Homo sapiens: one gene and its partners. Each later gene encodes a partner of the first gene's protein in a complex. Each region holds a gene or a part of one and is shown in the gene's direction. Other genes may lie near its edges.

The links. The genes of interacting proteins can lie anywhere in the genome.
Region 2: the proteins of MZT1 (region 1) and TUBGCP3 are in contact, whole or in part, in a cryo-EM structure (PDB 7QJD), measured with the Homo sapiens proteins. Residues at the interface, in NP_001065243.1 of Homo sapiens: Asn17 (codon at 4,081), Ala20 (codon at 4,090), Val21 (codon at 4,093), Glu23 (codon at 4,099), Thr24 (codon at 4,102), Val27, Leu28, Glu30, Ile31, Ser32, Arg33, Ile34, Leu35, Asn36, Thr37, Leu39, Asp40, Glu42, Thr43, Ile46, Cys47, Val48, Arg49, Leu50, Cys51, Glu52, Gln53, Gly54, Ile55, Asn56; in NP_006313.1 of Homo sapiens: Lys7, Pro9, Leu12, Leu13, Asn15, Leu16, Cys17, Arg19, Ile20, Leu21, Arg23, Val28, Gln31, Tyr34, Ala35, Val38, Ile39, Asn42, Phe43, Ala44, Pro45, Thr46, Ile58, Leu62, Arg67, Asp70, Phe74, Leu77, Lys80, Leu81.
Region 3: the proteins of MZT1 (region 1) and TUBGCP5 are in contact, whole or in part, in a crystal structure (PDB 6L81), measured with the Homo sapiens proteins. Residues at the interface, in NP_001065243.1 of Homo sapiens: Glu23 (codon at 4,099), Val27, Leu28, Glu30, Ile31, Ser32, Ile34, Leu35, Asn36, Thr37, Leu39, Leu44, Ile46, Cys47, Val48, Arg49, Leu50, Cys51, Glu52, Gln53, Ile55, Asn56, Pro57, Glu58, Ala59, Leu60, Ser61, Ser62, Val63, Ile64; in NP_443135.3 of Homo sapiens: Gln14 (codon at 4,688), Gln15 (codon at 4,691), Asp18 (codon at 4,700), Val19 (codon at 4,703), Glu21 (codon at 4,709), Leu22 (codon at 4,712), Val23 (codon at 4,715), Val26 (codon at 4,724), Ala27 (codon at 4,727), Gly28 (codon at 4,730), Asn36 (codon at 4,754), Ala40 (codon at 4,766), Phe43 (codon at 4,775), Ala44 (codon at 4,778), Asn47 (codon at 4,787), Phe48 (codon at 4,790), Arg52 (codon at 7,047), Phe53 (codon at 7,050), Leu54 (codon at 7,053), Phe72 (codon at 7,200), Lys80 (codon at 7,224), Ser83 (codon at 7,233), Trp84 (codon at 7,236), Leu87 (codon at 7,245), Thr88 (codon at 7,248), Glu90 (codon at 7,254), Phe91 (codon at 7,257), Ala106, Ser109, Ile110.

What each region holds. Positions count from the first base shown.
Region 1 is NC_000013.11:72,724,604-72,731,634, reverse strand, and holds the start of MZT1 (mitotic-spindle organizing protein 1), read left to right. Parts: upstream 1-4,005; 5' UTR 4,006-4,032; coding exon 4,033-4,111; intron 4,112-7,031. Other genes in the region: BORA (protein aurora borealis), read right to left, coding at 248-354, 2,542-2,694. UniProt on the Homo sapiens protein: Required for the recruitment and the assembly of the gamma-tubulin ring complex (gTuRC) at the centrosome.
Region 2 is NC_000013.11:112,484,489-112,487,166, reverse strand, and holds the end of TUBGCP3 (gamma-tubulin complex component 3), read left to right. Parts: intron 1-1,015; coding exon 1,016-1,174; 3' UTR 1,175-2,156; downstream 2,157-2,678. UniProt on the Homo sapiens protein: Component of the gamma-tubulin ring complex (gTuRC) which mediates microtubule nucleation.
Region 3 is NC_000015.10:23,036,548-23,044,191, reverse strand, and holds the start of TUBGCP5 (gamma-tubulin complex component 5), read left to right. Parts: upstream 1-4,622; 5' UTR 4,623-4,648; coding exon 4,649-4,794; intron 4,795-5,015; exon of another isoform or gene 5,016-5,210; intron 5,211-7,039; coding exon 7,040-7,093; intron 7,094-7,186; coding exon 7,187-7,295; intron 7,296-7,644. UniProt on the Homo sapiens protein: Component of the gamma-tubulin ring complex (gTuRC) which mediates microtubule nucleation.

The sequences.
Region 1 (7,031 bases):
TCACCTCAGTAGCAGAGGGAAAAGGTTACTTGTAAAAGAAAAAGGTATCTACTCAGGTCTGGAACTGTTGGCAAGAAAATCTTTCTGAATGTAGTTCTTTGAACTCATTCATTTAGATAGAAAAAATCTGCATCAAAATTTTTTCTCCCTGATACCTTTACATAGAAAAATACTCAACATTTAGAATTTCCTACCTCTCTTCACTTGAGAGTGTTATTAGACTTAGGTGCAAGAAAGGAAAACTTACCGAGAATGACTTAAGTATAAAGCTTGACGATGAATATCTTCTGGGTCTATTTCTACAGGATTTATTACAGCTAGTTGATCAATAGACCATCTAAATTTCCCTGGAGTCTTAACAAAAGAAAGTGAGCTTATGAGTAAAGGCAAACTAAAATAGTTCATCAAAATGCTAACCTATGTGAGAAATAATATGAATGGTTATAATATGAAAATATTTTAAAGCTTGTATTTTAAAATTTGACTTTACCATGAAATTAAATGGCAAAGGGTAATCATATCACATTCGATCAACTGACTTAATTGTATCTCTCTCTCTCTTTGTTTAAGACAGAGTCTCGTTCTGTCACCGAGGCTGGAGTGCACTGGTGTAATCTCAGCTCACTGCAACCTCCACCTCCCCGGTTCAAGCGATTCTCCTGCCTCAGCCTCCTGAGTAGCTGGGATTACAGGCACCCGCCACCACACCCAGCTAATTTTTGTATTTTTTTTTTTTTTTTTTTTTTAGTAGAGATGGGGTTTCACCATGTTGGCCAGGCTGGTCTCAAACTCCTGACTTCAAGTCATCAGCCCACCTTGGCAGTGCTGGGATTACAGGCATGAGCCACAGCGCCCAGCCTGTATCTCTTTTAAAATATCAGAATCTTTCACCTGGGTTGGAATTACGTAATACGAGAAAAATCACAACAGAGTAATAAAGATATAAAACTTTCACAATTAACACTCATCAGTGTGATAAACTAAGCCCATGTAAAAGTAAAAATCTCTCACAGTTAACAAACGTCTTTACTTTCACTAAGAAGGAACTGAAATTAAAGTCCTTAGTCACTTTGGAGGTGGCTGCAAAAGCTCACAACATAGTTGATCCTTAAAATAATTATGAATGGCAACCAGTGCTGCCTTTCTGTACTCAACCATGCAACTGAATTAAAGGTTTATCCAAATCCTAATCTGTAATTAGAAATATATTCTAGGCAAATTCAGTCCTAAAAACGCAAGATGCCATACATTCCAACTTTGAGGATTAAGCTGCCGTCAATCTATTATTTATTTTTAGTAAGACCAAGAGATAAATTTTAATGATTCAATTAAAAATCATAAGGTCAGATTGATGAAATGACTCAATATAAACTGCTCGACCTTCCACTAGTACATACTTGCTCATTGTAAAACCTGTATGAAAGTGTAGCAGAAACAGCCACCCTATTTGCAGTTTTTCTAAGTAACTTGGTAGGTTGAAAGATCCAAGGTCAAAAGAACTTATCCAGTGTAGCAAATAACAGTAAAATAAGATAAAGTGGCCCGGGCATGGTGGCTCATGCCTGTAATCCCAGCACTTTGGGAGGCTGAAGTGGGTGCATCACATGAGGTCAGGAGTTCGAGATCAGCCTGGCCAACATGGTGAAATCCCATCTCTACCAAAAAAAAAAAAAAGATAAAGTGATGAAGCCTTTTCTAATATCCTGAAGAACACTTTTCCTTCATATTACTATTGTCCTAAGTACTAATCATATCACCTATCACACTGCCTTGATATTACTCATCTAGTTCTGTTTAACACATTAAAATAGGGGTTAGTTTCTTTTTATAATAGATTGCAAGCTAAGAATTATTTTGACAGTTTCAAATGGTTGGGAAAACAAACAAAAAAATATCTTGTGACATGTGAAAATTATATGAAATTCAAATGTGTCCATAAATAAAGCTGTATTGGAACAGAGTAACATTTATCTCTTTACACATTGCCTATGGCTGCTTTTGTGATACAAGACAGAAGTGAGTAGTTGTGACAGAGACCAAATGACCTGTAAAGCTTAAATATTTACTGTCTGGCCCCTAACAGAAAGTTTGTGACCCATACATCGGAGTATAACCTCCTTAAGGATTTGTGCCTAATGATCCTAACTTGTTCACAGTGTAATCCCTGCTTAGCACTGTATCTGACACATAGCAACACTCAAATAATGTTTGCCAAATAAGTGAGAACAGAATATTAGATGATGCAGCTTCTTCTCTAATGTATTAGTAGCTATATCGTCAACCACAGAATGTAGCTACACCCACAACTGCAGGAAGCTAACGTATGTTCTTGAACTTAAAAAAAAAAAAATCTTCTAGCTAACTTATTAACCTAACCACTAGATTATAATGAACACTACAATTTAAAAAAGTATATTGCAGCTATATATGCTCCATAATGTATTTCCTCCTTACCTTGTAAAGACAGATGTTTACATTTAAAATTATTTGTAATTACTTACATTTAAAATTAGTTGTAAACACTAGTCAGGAATAACTTACTGGTAATTTTGTTGATTTAAAAACAGAAGGACTGGCGAGAGTTTGTTCATGGAGATTAGAATAATCACTAGGACTTTCAAAAGGATTTAAAACAGGGATCCTTCCTGGAGTTTCTGGTGTTATTTGCATCTTTGATTCCTTGACATCTCCCATAGCACAGAGAGAAAACTAAAAAGAAATCAAGAGTATGCATGTTAAAATTACAAAGTCCCATAGATATTAATTTTAACTATTAAAATGTACTCGACAAATGTGTCACAAAAAACAACTCAAAACCTCACACTCTTGGGGCTATGATACAGCTTACAAAAAAAGTATCACATATAAATGTTCTCAACTGATCCTCGAAACAACCTTGAAAGCTATAGCAGTAACTTACTAGTGATATTATTTTGCGAAAGTATTAAGCTCAGAGAAGTGAAGTGGCTTATACGCAGCAATCAAATATGAATGAATTCAGATCTGCCTCTGAGGAAACTAAAGGTTACAACAGGCCCAGATCTCTTCTCAACTAAAGGACTTATAGCTACAATTTTTTTTAAATTCATCATCTCATGTCTCAACACTATGAACATTCTTCGGATACCCTATCCAACTACAGTTGCTATTAAACAATTCTTTGTAGCAAGCAGGTAAGAGATGAGGAAGCTTGTGCCTTTCTTGCACATGAGTCCTAGCCAGAGAAGTATGATTGACAGGGGCTAGGAAATTAACTGCCTGGGGTCCCCTTTCCTCCAAAAATCCTCCTTTCGCCAAGACCTCCCCTCCACCCCTCCCGGGATAGAAAGGGAGACTGCATTACTTGCAATCAAAGGAGGCTACAGAGGCTACACCTTGGCGGGGTGGGGTGGAAAAGAGTCTACTTCTGGAAGGTTGAGATGCAGCCGGCTTCCCTGGATGGAGTGCGAAGGAGGCGTCGCCCCCAACCCTACGTGGCCACTCTTTCTGGTGCCCCTCTCTTCCACACCTACTCCCTGACTGCTCCCATTCACCAGGGGCGAGCGGGCAGGCAAGTCAGGAGCTGGGAAAAGAAACCTCTCCATTCAGACAGGAGGAAAGGCCAGGGACCACAAAGAGCGTACCTACCGGTGCGTACAAAACGAAGCCCCCAGTACCGACTCCAGGGAGCTCCGGGGGCCAGGCCAGCTTCCACGACAGGCATAGACTCTTTAACTCCCCGCTTCCGCGCTGTCTTGGGCCAACCAGGGCACGGGGCTTGTGAGCGACTAGCCAATCGTGTCGTCCCGCCATCCGCGAACCAGCCAATCGCACGGAGGCCGCGTAGGAAATTCGAATGGCAACTCCTCGCTCCACGTTCCGCGCAGAGGAACGTGGCTCCAAATTCAAATCAACGCAGCCTCACGCCGGCGGCGAGCGCGAGGGGCGGAGCCTGCCCGGCGTGGGCCGAGACGCGCTGTGTGATTGCCTCGGAGAGAGGAAGGCGCTCCAGTTCCGGGTCAGGCCCTTCTCCCGCCTCCCTCGGCCTTAGCCATGGCGAGTAGCAGCGGTGCTGGGGCGGCGGCGGCGGCCGCGGCGGCGAATCTGAATGCGGTGCGGGAGACCATGGACGGTGAGTTTCCGTTGCGCTCCCTTTACCTTGCGTGCCTTCCCAGAGCCAAGGCCCCCAGGCGGGAATGAGCCTGGGGAGGACTTCAGGTCCCCTTAGTGCCCCAAACGGCATCTTCCAAGATCTTTGGTAGGGACCTGCCAGGGCCGCAGGGCTGATGGCCCTATCCCTTGAGAGTTGTCTCCGCCGCTGCGTAGTTTGTCGCGCGCGCTAGGCGTTGCGGCCCCTAGTCAGCCGGTTGCGCACCGCGTCCCTCTCGCGCGAATGCCGCGCCCCCTCTATCCCGCATCCCAGGTCCGCCCTACCCGCCCGATCTCCTGCGGTGACAGCGTCACGCCCACCCCACCCAGTACACCCGTTCCCTCCTGCGTGCCGCGTCCCACCCGATTCCCGCCCGGGGCGCTTCGGGGGTCCCCAAGGTTGGGATCCCGGCGGGGACAGGGGCCAGGTGTTTGGTCACCGCTATGCCTCCTGTTCTTCGCACTTAAGTAGGCACCTTTAATATCCGGCGAATGAACAAGTTCCCCTTTGGTCATAATTATCCTAGTTTCCTCTTGAAGCGGGTGACACCAGTGCCCAAGTGCTATGGTGTCGCCTGTTTTCGGCCCCGGAGGCACGTGTGTGTGAAGCCTACACAAGTGTTGCAGAACACGAAATTTGTGTCTTGCGGTTACCCTCTGTCTACCCTCTAATGTCGGTTCTGCCACTTTATGCCCCTGTGGTGAGCTTGGACTAGATACTTAAACATCATTGAGCCTGTTTAGTTTTTTTTTTTTTTTTTTCTGTAAAATAAAACCCTACCTCCAGGAGTTGTGAATATTTAAATAAGACAACCATGTAAAAACATATCAAAGATGATCAATTATTTTTATATTATTTCAGATGGCCTCTCTCTTGTAGTCTTCTTTCTTTGTCTCCTTTTTACTCACATCCACCTGTATTATGAGTGTTTGATCGATGTTGTTATTTGCAGTGGGCCTAGACGTTTTCCAGGGTCTACTCACGTCAGCTTCCGTCTCTGTTAAAAGATAACCCTATGAAATTCTCACTGCTGTATCTCTCTCTCCTTCACCGTAGGCTCTTTTTTTCTTTTTTGAGACACAGTCTTGCTGTAGTTGCCCAGGGTGGAGTGCAATGGCGCAACCTCGGCTCACTGCAACCTCCGCCTCCCGGGTTCAGGCGATTCTCCTGCCTCAGCCTCTGGAGTAGCTGGGATTACAGGTGCCCGCCAGAACACCCGGCTAATTTTTTGTATTTTTAGTAGAGACGGAGTTTCCCCATGTTGGCCAGGTTGGTCTCGAACTCCTGACTTCAGGTGATCCACATGCCTCGGCCTCCCAAAATGCTAGGATTACAGGCGTGAGCCACCATGCCCGGCCTCATTTTCTTATGTAGCACTTGCAGAGGGGCTGCTGGCTTTTTCTGCACTGGTCCTGGTTTTCTTTTCAAAGAATTACACTTTTAGAGCCTTTGCATCTAATTTTTCACTTGTTCAGTATCTACCTTGCTGTTTTTCTGAGAATGTTACTCTTAATATTCAGCTTATTTTTCTATCCTTTTCGATGTATCAACACTTAATAGTTTTATTTTGTAAGTGGATTTATGTATGAATATATATATGTGTGTGTATATAAATATAAATTTACTGTCTTGTATATTTCCTTGGAAAAAGGTAGAGTATAAGACCTCACTTCTAGCCTATTTTCTTAGGTTAGCTGTACTTAGGTTCCTTATGTATATGGCCACAGGATCCCATTTGAACAGAAAACTCACATTTTCTCTGGTGGAATCACTGATGTACAATTGAGAACTGATGGTTTGTGTTGGCTGCATCATCAAGATCTCTTCTGAGAAAACTTGGTGTGAAATGAAGATTATAAAGAGAGTAAGAACACAAAAAAGTGAAGTAAAACAAAAAATGAAGGAGAGGGGATGTGGTGTTACACAGTATTTAAATCAACCCGTGAGATCAAAAATAAAATTTTCAAAACTTTTTGAATACCATTTCTCCCCTCAATGGTAGCATTTGTGAACCTCCCTTTAAGTCATGTGAATTGCAGAACTCTTGGCTACATTTGCATTTTGATCATGAAATGAAAGGATTTTGTTAAAGACATGGAAGGAAGCAGGCTAACTTTCTATTAATAAATTATCTGTGCACCTCACTCTGAAAAGAACTATCTCTGCCAATTTAGAATAAGGTCTGCATGAGATCTCTGCTTTCATCCTTATATCCCTAAAATTCTACACGCTTAAAATAGTCGTGCCTTTTCAACAACACCCCCCTCGCAACCCACTGTGTATGGTTGCCTCTTTTGCTTTTCAACTTTTTGGTATGTTAGGTACTCTCTATTGATTGCTTTTTATACCTTAATTTTTATTTTCCTCTAAAATCGTCCTGTGCATCTGAATTTTAATTTTGATAATTATTCCTTATGAGAGGCTTTATCATAGCACTATTTTTTTTTTTTTTTTGAGACCGAGTCTGGCTGGAGTGCAGTGGCGCGACCTTGGCTCACTGCAACCTCCGCCTCCCAGGTTGAAGCTGGGGATGGGAACCAATTCTCCTGCCTTGGCCTCTGGAGTAACTAGGATTATAGGCGCCCGCCACCACGCCCAGCTAATTTTTGTATTTTTAGTAGAGACAGGGTTTCACCATGTTGGCCAGTCTGGTCTGGAACTCCTGACCTCAGGTGATCCACCCGCCTCAGCCTCCCAAAGTGCTGGGATTATAGGCGTGAGCCACTGTGCCCGGCCTGTAGCACCACTTTACATATATATATGTGTATATATATATATATATATATGTATATATATATATATATTTAGTAGTAAGTACGGGTGCCTGTAATCCCAGCTACTTGGGAGGCTGAGGCAGGAGAATCGCTTGAACCTGGGAGGCGAAGGTTGTCGTGAGCTGAGA
Region 2 (2,678 bases), about 40 Mb from region 1:
TCTATATTTTGGCAATATAACTTCTTAGGCGTGTTCTTCTTCCCTCACCTAAAAAGGCAGTGATACACACACACACACACACAGACACACACACACACACACACACACACACATACACAGTGTTTGCCTGCTCAGAGGTGAAGTTACTTTATCAACACAGCAGAGCCTGTGCCCAGGCCTGCCTGTGAGCTTCAGCATTCGTGTTTCTGACCAGAAGCTGGGAAGGGGCAGTGACAGCTGGTGAAGACTTGGGCGGGGCTTGGTGAGGACGCAGTGCCTCAGTGAGTTTTCTCTGCAGATGAGGCCTTTCCAGGCCAGCAGTTCTGTGAACAGATCAGCACCCCGTGGCATGCAGCAGGCTCCAGCACTGGGCGGGGATGGGCCTGTACTCAGTATGCAAGTCTTTCAGCCTGAAATAGAAGCAGCCAGTCCTTTCGTCTTATCAGAGTTAGGGGAAACTTCTGTCACATCTTTAAAAACGCCCTCAGTAACAGGATGATGGCGATGCCAGTGCCCATGAAGAGGGCGGCTGCAGCCTCACGTCCAGCAGCTAGACCCAAAGACCCGACTGATGCTCTCAATTTGTTCTCCAGCAAGGGCTCTAGGATGAAATCCTCTTTCATGAGTCATATGAAAGATGAAATATGTGGCACTGAGTTTTGTATTCAAAATAGAATGTTCTAACATCTGTTACTTTGCTGTTTTGCTTATTCTTGTGGAACTTAAGAACAAAGTGAAAAAACCTGTTGGTTAGTTGTTTTCAAATCAAATGTATTCTTCACTAATTTGTCCTTGTAAAAGGGCGCCCATTCCTAATGCAGGTGCACTGGCCGTGTGCACTCCAGGGTCCCAGCAGCTCTTGCTCCCTGGACACCTGCCCTGGTGGGCATTTACTAAGGGCCTGTTGATCTGGAAGGAAAAACAGACCCAACCCAAAGGAGATTAAGGTCCGGGGAATACGTTTGTGGGTTGTTCTTTTCTGAAACAATATTTTACTCCTTTTGCTTCTTTTTAGGGTATCGTGCAGCAGTTTTTGGTGTTACTGACGACCAGCTCTGACGAGAGTCTTCGGTTTCTTAGCTTCAGGCTGGACTTCAACGAGCATTACAAAGCCAGGGAGCCCAGGCTCCGTGTGTCTCTGGGTACCAGGGGGCGGCGCAGCTCCCACACGTGAAGCTCGCGGTCCTCCCAGGGAGCTGCGGGTGATGTTCGTTGCACTGCTAGACACGAAATTCCCATTGACGTCCTGCAGGAACTGCATGCTGCAGGTGTCCTGCCCTTCCGCCCACGAGTGCGCCATGTTTCAGCGGAGCGGCGTGTGGGAGAAGCCACGTCGTGTTTCACATGTCGGAGTCGAATGCATTTGTAAATCCCTAAGTCAAGTAGGCTGGCTGCACTGTTCACATTTGTCTCTAAAAGTCTTCATCGCTAAAAGATACCATAATTTGCTGAGGCTTCTTAAGCTTTCTATGTTATAATTTATATTTGTCACTTTAAAAAATCCATTTCTTTTAGAAAAAATTAGGGTGATAGGATATTCATTAGTTAAGATGGTAACGTCATTGCTATTTTTTTAACATCCTCTTTAGAGGTAATTTTTGTTAACATAACCAAAAATTAAATTGAAACAAAATGTCCCAACTAAGAAAATATATAGAGCATTTTATTTTTTTTTAGTGTTGTAAAATATTAACCTCTGTGAGATCCTTTGTATCTTAATGCATTACCTTTACACATATTTATTCTTATTTTCTCTCCTTTCAGAGTTTACATTTTTATATTTAATTTACTATTTCAGATTTTTAAAATAGTATAGAAAAAAGTAGGAGTGATAGAGAACAAAAATACTCTTATACAGTGCAACCCAAATACCGCGAATGCATCAGCTAAAGCAGCGTGTAAATAGGAGTGACGAGAAAGTTAATGGAGTATTTTATTTTCAAAGTTCCTGATAAGCATTGGAAAGAAATCGACATGGATAATGAAGATTTCCTTTTTCCTTGCCTATTTTTTCATTGTAAATATTTATATACTACTGACCAAGATGTTGGGGTGGGGGGGATTGTTTTTTGTAAAAATGTCATTATCAGGTCACATAAATCTGCCTTTATGTTGCATAAGTGAAAATTTAGAAAATTAAAAGCAATTATCTTTCAGATGCATTCGTTATTTCTTGAGTAGTTTATGAAGGGACAGTTTACTTGCTGGATTTGGGGGTTGAGGGTTGGTAGAATTTGATTTAATATAGTACAGCATATGAATTATTTAATCAGTGAAACCAGGAAAGTAGACTTTGTGTGACTTTTGGTATAGAAGCAAAGGCAATGTCACCGCTCAGGTCTCAGGAGCGGTGCTTTAGTTATCTGAATCCACCTCTGACTCCTTTAGGTGTGGATTACCTTTAAAACTAAAGGGGCTGTCAGGAATCCTGGCCATGCAGAAATGAATTCATGGCAAAGGCCAGAAATTCAATGTAATTTTAGTTTTGAAGTTCATAAAATCAGAAATTTGAAACAGGTTTTTCTACTGCAAGGTTTTTTAGAAATTATTGCATATTGTTTATCTCCACGAGAGGTTTACCAAGGTAATTGACCATGCAGCCAGCTTTTATTTTATTTTATTCAGAGAGTTGTTCCAGGGATTAATCCTCAGTAGAAACCACCCTAGCAAAGGCCCAC
Region 3 (7,644 bases), on another chromosome or scaffold:
TCCCCCAGCCCCCAGCACTTCCGGCCAGCTGGGGTTATGATGGCCCCACAGCACCTCTGGCCAGGTGGGGTTATGATGACCCCCCAGCACCTCTGGCCAGGTGAGGTTATGATGTCCCCCCAGCACCCCTGGCCAGGTGGGGTTATGAAATCCCCCCCAGCACCTCTGGCCAGGTGACATTTATGAAGTCACCCCCAGCACCTCTGGCCAGGTGGGGTTATGATGGCCCCACAGCACCGCTGGCCAGGTGGGGTTATGATGGCCCCCCAGCATCTCTGGCCAGGTGTGATTATGATATCCCCTAGCACCTCTGGCCAGGTGAGGTTATGATGTCCCCCCAGCACCTCTGGCCAGGTGGGGTTATGAAATCCCCCGCAGCACCTCTGGCCAGGTGACATTTATGAAGTCACCCCCAGCAACTCTGGCCAGGTGGGGTTATGAAGTTCCCCCCGCCCCCCGGCACCTCCGGCCAGCTGGGGTTATGATGGCCCCACAGCACCTCTGGCCAAGTGGGATTATGACCCCCCCAGCACCTCTGGCCAGGTGGGGTTATAATACCCCCCCACAGCACCTCTGGCCAGGTGAGGTTATGATGTCCCCCCAGCACCTCTGGCCAGGTGTGGTTATGAAGTCCTCCTGGCACCTCTGGCCAGGTGTGATTATGAAGTCCCACTAGCACCTCTGGCCAGGTGGGGTTATGAAATCTCCCCCAGCACCTCTGGCCAGCTGTGGTTATGAAATCCCCCCCAGCACCTCTGGCCTGGTGACATTTATGAAGTCACCCCCAGCACCTCCGGCCAGGTAGGGTTAGGAAGTTCCCCCCGCCCCCCAGCACCTCCGGCCAGGTGGGGTTATGATGTCCCCCCAGCATCTCTGGCCAGGTGGGATTATGATATCCCCCTAGCACCTCTGGCCAGGTGAGGTTATGATGTCCCCCCAGCACCTCTGGCCAGGTTGGGTTATGAAATCCCCCCAGCACCTCTGGCCAGGTGACATTTATGAAGTCACCCCCAGCACCTCTGGCCAGGTGGGGTTATGAAGTTCCCCCCGCCCCCCAGCACCTCTGGCAGGTGGGGTTATGATGTCCCCCCAGCATCTCTGGCCAGGTGGGATTATGATACCCCCCAGCACCTCTGGCCAGGTGAAGTTATGATGTCCCCCCAGCACCTCTGGCCAGGTGGGGTTATGAAGTCCCCCAGGACCTCTGGCCAGGTGGGGTTATGAAGTCCCCCCCAGCACCTCTGGCCAGGTGGGGTTATGAAATCCCCTCCAGCACCTCTGGCCAGGTGACATTTATGAAGTCACCCCTAGCACCTCTGTCCGGGTAGGGTTATGAAATTCCCCCTGCCCCCAGCACCTCCGGCCAGCTGGGGTTATGATGGCCCCACAGCACCTCTGGCCAGGTGGGGTTATGATGTCCCCCCAGCATCTCTGGCCAGGTGGGATTATGATACCCCCCAGCACCTCTGGCCAGGTGAGGTTATGATGTCCCCCAGCACCTCTGGCCAGGTGGGGTTATGAAGTCCTCCCGGCACCTCTGGCCAGGTGTGGTTATGAAGTCCCCCGCAGCACCTCTGGCCAGGTGGGGTTATGAAATCCCCCCCAGCACCTCTGGCCAGGTGACAGTTATGAAGTCACCCCCAGCACCTCTGGCCAGGTGGGGTTATGAAGTTCCCCCCGCCCCCCAGCACCTCCGGCCAAGTGGGGTTATGATGGCCCCAGAGCACCTCTGGCCAGGTGGGATTATGATGTCCCCCAGCACCTCTGGCCAGGTGGGGTTATGATGTCCCCCCTGGCACCTCTGGCCAGGTGGGGTTATGATGTCCCCCAGCACCTCTGGCCAGGTGGGGTTATGAAGTCCCACCGGCACCTCTGGCCAAGTGTGGTTATGACGTCCCCCCCAGCACCTCTGGCCAGGTGGGGATATAATACCCACCCCCAGCACCTCTGGCCAGGTGAGGTTATGATGTCCCCCCGGCACCTCTGGCCAGGTGTGGTTATGATGTCCCCCCGGTACCTCTGGCCAGGTGTGGTTATGAAGTCCCCCCGGCACCTCTGGCCAGGTGGGGTTATGAAGTCCCACCGGCACCTCTGGCCAGGTGTGGTTATGATGCCCCCCCGGCACCTCTGGCCAGGTGTGGTTATGAAGTCCTCCCGGCACCTCTGGCCAGGTGGGGTTATGAAGTCCCCCCGGCACCTCTGGCCAGGTGGGGTTATGAAATCCCCCCCAGCACCTCTCGCCAGGTGACATTTTGAAGTCACCCCCAGCACCTCTGGCCAGGTGGGGTTAAGAAGTTCCCCCCGCCGCCCAGCACCTCTGGCCAGGTGGGGTTATGATGGCCCACCAGGACCTCCTGCCAGCTGGGGTTATGATGGCCCCACAGCACCTCTGTCGAGGTAGGATTATGATACCCCCCAGCACCTCTGGCCAGGTGGGGTTATAATACCCCCCCACAGCACCTCTGGCCAGGTGAGGTTATGATGTCCCCCCAGCACCTCTGGCCAGGTGTGGTTATGAAGTCCTCCTGGCACCTCTGGCCAGGTGTGGTTATGAAGTCCCCCCAGCACCTCTGGCCAGGTGGGGTTATGAAATCTCCCCCAGCACCTATGGCCAGCTGTGGTTATGAAATCCCCCCCAGCACCTCTGGCCAGGTGACATTTATGAAGTCACCACCAGCACCTCTGGCCAGGTGGGGTTATGAAGTTCCCCCCGCCCCCCAGCACCTCCGGCCAGGTGGGGTTATGATGTCCCCCCAGCATCTCTGGCCAGGTGGGATTATGATATCCCCCTAGCACCTCTGGCCAGGTGAGGTTAAGATGTCCCCCCAGCACCTCTGGCCAGGTTGGGTTATGAAATCCCCCCAGCACCTCTGGCCAGGTGACATTTATGAAGTCACCCCCAGCACCTCTGGCCGGGTGGGGTTATGAAGTTCCCCCCGCTCCCCAGCACCTCCGGCCAGCTGGGGTTATGATGGCCCCACAGCACCTCTGGCCAAGTGGGGTTATGATGTCCCCCCAGCATCTCTGGCCAGGTGGGATTATGATACCCCCCAGCACCTCTGGCCAGGTGAGGTTATGATGTCCCCCCAGCACCTCTGGCCAGGTGGGGTTATGAAATCCCCCCCAGCACCTCTGGCCAGGTGACATTTATGAAGTCACCCCCAGCACCTCTGGCCAGGTGGGGTTAAGAAGTTCCCCCCGCCCCCCAGCACCTCCGGCCAGCTGGGGTTATGATGGCCCCACAACACCTCTGGCCAGGTGGGGTTATGATGTCCCCCCAGCATCTCTGGCCAGGTCAGATTATGATACCCCCCAGCACCTCTGGCCAGGTGAGGTTATGATGTCCCCCCAGCACCCCTGGTCAGGTGGGGTTATGAAATCCCCCCCAGCACCTCTGGCCAGGTGACATTTATGAAGTCACCCCCAGCACCTCTGGCCAGGTGGGGTTACGAAGTTCCCCCCGCCCCCCAGCACCTCCGGCCAGGTGGGGTTATGATGGCCCCACAGCACCTCTGGCCAGGTGGGGTTATGATGGCCCCCCAGCATCTCTGGCCAGGTGGGATTATGATACCCCCTAGCACCTCTGGCCAGGTGAGGTTATGATGTCCCCCCAGCACCTCTGGCCAGGTGGGGTTATGAAGTTCCCCCCGCCCCCCGGCACCTCCGGCCAGCTGGGGTTATGATGTCCCCCCAGAATCTCTGGCCAGGTGGGATTATGATATCCCCCTAGCACCTCTGGCCAGGTGAGGTTAAGATGTCCCCCCAGCACCTCTGGCCAGGTTGGGTTATGATGGCCCCACAGCACCTCTGGCCAGGTGGGATTATGATACCCCCTAGCACCTCTGAGCAGGTGAGGTTATGATGTCCCCCCAGCACCTCTGTCCAGGTGTGGTTATGAAGTCCTCCCGGCACCTCTGGCTAGGTGTGGTTATGAAGTCCCCCCAGCACCTCTGGCTAGGTGGGGTTATGAAATCTCCCCCACCACCTCTGGCCAGGTGACATTTATGAAGTTCCCCCCCTCAGCACCTCTGGCCAGGTGGGGTCATGAAGTCCCCCAAGCCGCCCCTGAGGAACAGGCGAGGCAAGGGCCAGCAGGCACTACTAGCGGGTCGGGACAGCTGCTTCGCTGATGCTGGTTGTGTAGCATGGATGTGTGTAGCGTGACTGTGTTGTGTGGATGGGGCACGGAAATCCGCAGAGACCATCACTGGAGGGAGAAGCTGCAGGGCCGGGAGGGTTCAGCAGGTAAGCAGTTCAGGGTTCCTGGAAAGGCGGGTCCCAATGCATTTGCTGACCGGGCACCTAACGGGCTGCTCTCAAAATCACTGACTGTCACCGAGGCCGGCCAGAGACCCTTATGTATCTGATTCACGATGACACCAGCTAACTCTGAGTACAGTAGAAAACGTACCGTCGGGCAACCAGAAAATGCGCACTCCAGTCCCCACCACGGGACAGCGCCAGGCAGTACCCTCCACAGCCGGAGCTCGAACTGTCGCGAGAATAGCGGTCGGCTTGGAAGTCGCCCGGCGCGGGAGCGCGAACTCTCGCGAGAATGCCGCCAGCTCCGGAGGCGACTGCGGCAGGAGCCCGAGCTCTCGCGCGACAGGCACCAATTCGTTAGACGCGCGCTGCAGGAGCGCGGAACATGGCGCGGCACGGGCCACCGTGGAGTCGGTTGGACGCGCAGCAGGAGCGCGACGTGCGGGAGCTCGTCCGGGGTGTCGCCGGCCTCCAGGACGAGGCAGACCCCAACTTCCAGCTCGCCCTAAACTTCGCCTGGTCCAACTTCAGGTGTGGGGCACGGCGCGCGGGCGGGTTCCCGGCCACAGCCCGGAGCCCGCGCGTGGGTCCCGCACAGCCCGGGGTCGGGGCGCGCTGGGGCAGGGCATGGGGCGGAGGCGGGCGCGGCCTCAGGGAGCCTTCGCAGGCCCTGCCACCGCCTGCTCCCCGCCGGCCAGCGCTCTCGGCGCGGTGCCCTGCGCACCACAGGGCGTGTTACCCGGGACGCGTCCTGATCGTCACGGGGAAAGCGTGAACTGGGTTTCTTGCCGGCCGGCGCGCGCGCCTGCAACCCCAGCGCTCTGGGAGGCCCAGGCGGGACTCCAGGCCAGCTTGGGCAACGTAGCAACTCCATGTTTATAATTTTTTTTTTTTTTAAATTAAAGAGATTGTATTCTCACTGACTCCTGCTCCCTGGTCAGCCCAGTGTAAGATCTCTCACCCTGCTCTCCTTTTTCCAAAACGCGTGTCATGACACTGATTTAACCTGTCATTACTGTCTCCTCCACTTCCACTCCAGCTAGAATGCTGCATCTCTGCACAGCTCCTGGCACGTAGCACGCTGAGTCACCTAATACAATTTCTAATGCAGTTTCTCTTGTAACTAATTTTTAAAGACTTACAGAATTTAGATATTTACGTAAAGTGAGATCTCCTATTTTTCTTTATGGGAGATGTAAATTAATACTTTTAGAGTCATTACCCATAATGAAATTATTACTAAAAAAATGTTAATGTTAATATTCTACCTGTTTAATTTCAGTAAAAATCTTCTTGAATAATGAACAGTTTTTCAAAATCCGTAATCTTAGTTACCTTAATGATCATAGCCATAAAGTGTCTAGTTGGCTTATAATAGGAATACGGGGCTTTCAGATTCTTTTAAACCATGCCAAGTTTCTGAAGTAATAAACTGAATTCTTAAGTGTAACTTATAAAAATAAACAATGTGTGAAATAGGTTATACAATACAGAAACTTAAATGCTGAAATCCAAGTTATTTTTCTACTAATATTTCTAAATGACAGTAGGCAGATTGTCATCATTTTAGAGCTGGGAGAGACGTTGGAGGTTACTATTTTCATTCACAGATTTCAGGAACTAAATTATAATAGGTAAAGTGGTGTTCCATTCACCCATTTACTGGCCTAGAATCATGTGTTTTTCAGTAGTGTAATTTTATTTAAGTACAGATTGCTCGCTTTGATACTAAAAAATGGAAAACATTTTTTGCATAGGCTATGCTATGTACATATACATTAGTTGCATAGGCTGTGCTGTAATTTTATGATGCTTTAAACCATCAGAAAAATGAATAGTTCATGTTTACATTCTTGAAAATTGTGGACTGGGCGCGGTGGCTCACGCCTGTAATCCCAGCACTTTAGGAGGCCGAGGTGGGTGGATCACGAGGTCAGGAGATCGAGACTATCCTGGCTAACACGGTGAAACCCGGTCTCTACTAAAAGTACAAAAAATTAGCCGGGCGTGGTGGCAGGCGCCTGTAGTCCCAGCTACTTGGGAGGCTGAGGCAGGAGAATGGCGCGAACCCAGGAGGCGGAGCTTGCACTGAGCAAGCTCACTTTTCTCTAACTGAAAAGTAGCATCTCCTTCTATTATGAATGAAGGCAGCAAACCATAGCAGTATTAGCCTACCTATGACTTTATCACCAGTAGAAATCGCATACTGTTTTCACATCAGAGTTGTAGATATTTGTAAATGTTGTTTACTGTTACTTTAATGGTAGTTAATTGGACCTACTGCTAAATCTTGTTATTTAATACTTTCATAAATAACATTTCTTGCCATATCTTAAACTTCTTTAAATATTTGACAACTGTATCTCAGTATAATGGGATTCCTTTGTATTTATTTTTTGGCTTTAAAAATGTTATTCAGAGAAGGGGTCCTTAGGCTTCACCGGGCCTCACTATGGCATAAAAAGGTTGGGACCACCTGATGTAGAATGTGTTCAGCTGGACTTAGGTACAGGGGCTTATGGGAAGACAGAGGAGCCAGAGGACAAGGTTGGGAGGGTCAGGAAGAACCTGTGTGCTGGAGAAAGGATGCTTGCACAGTCTCGGACACGGTGATTATTTGCCTGCCTGATGGTGGAGGTAACGGAGGACAAGGTACACTCCATTCTGGAAATGTGTAGCTGAGTACAGAGCATATGGGGGATATGGAGGGCCATGAGATGAGTTCACTTACCTGTGTGACAGAGTTGGCATAAGAATTGCATTTTGTCTTTAATAGATTTCATCGTTTCTTGGATGTCAACAGCCACAAAATAGAAAAAACAATCGAAGGGTAAGTCAGTGTGTATATATACGCATCCAGAAATATATGTATTTTCTTATAGATCTTTTTAAGATAGCTTTATAATCTTTTCTTATATTTTAGAATTTATGAAAAATTTGTCATTCATTCTGATCTAAGCAAAGCTGCTAGTTGGAAGAGATTAACGGAGGAATTTCTAAATGCACCACTTCCCAGTATAAAGGAAATAAAGGTATGCCTTCAATTATGAGATCTCCACTGTGTATTTTACTGTTTCCTATCTGATTATCGTCAATTTGTTTCAGTTACTGTTTAAACATTCTATTTTAGTATTATCTACTGGCTAACGGGATCTCTTGGAAATTTACTTAAATATTGCCATCAAACCAGATATGCCTCAGTTTGTGATGAAAGAAAGAGCTTGTTTTTAATCATTTTTTCACCTCAGTCCTACTAAGGAAAGAGAGATCAGAGATTGATACAAATAGTAGCATTGTTTGGGTATCTCAAAACTTTCAAATGGTTTCTCAGCACTTGGCAGTGACTGTCTGTAGATGCTTACTAGATGCCTGGTATACTTT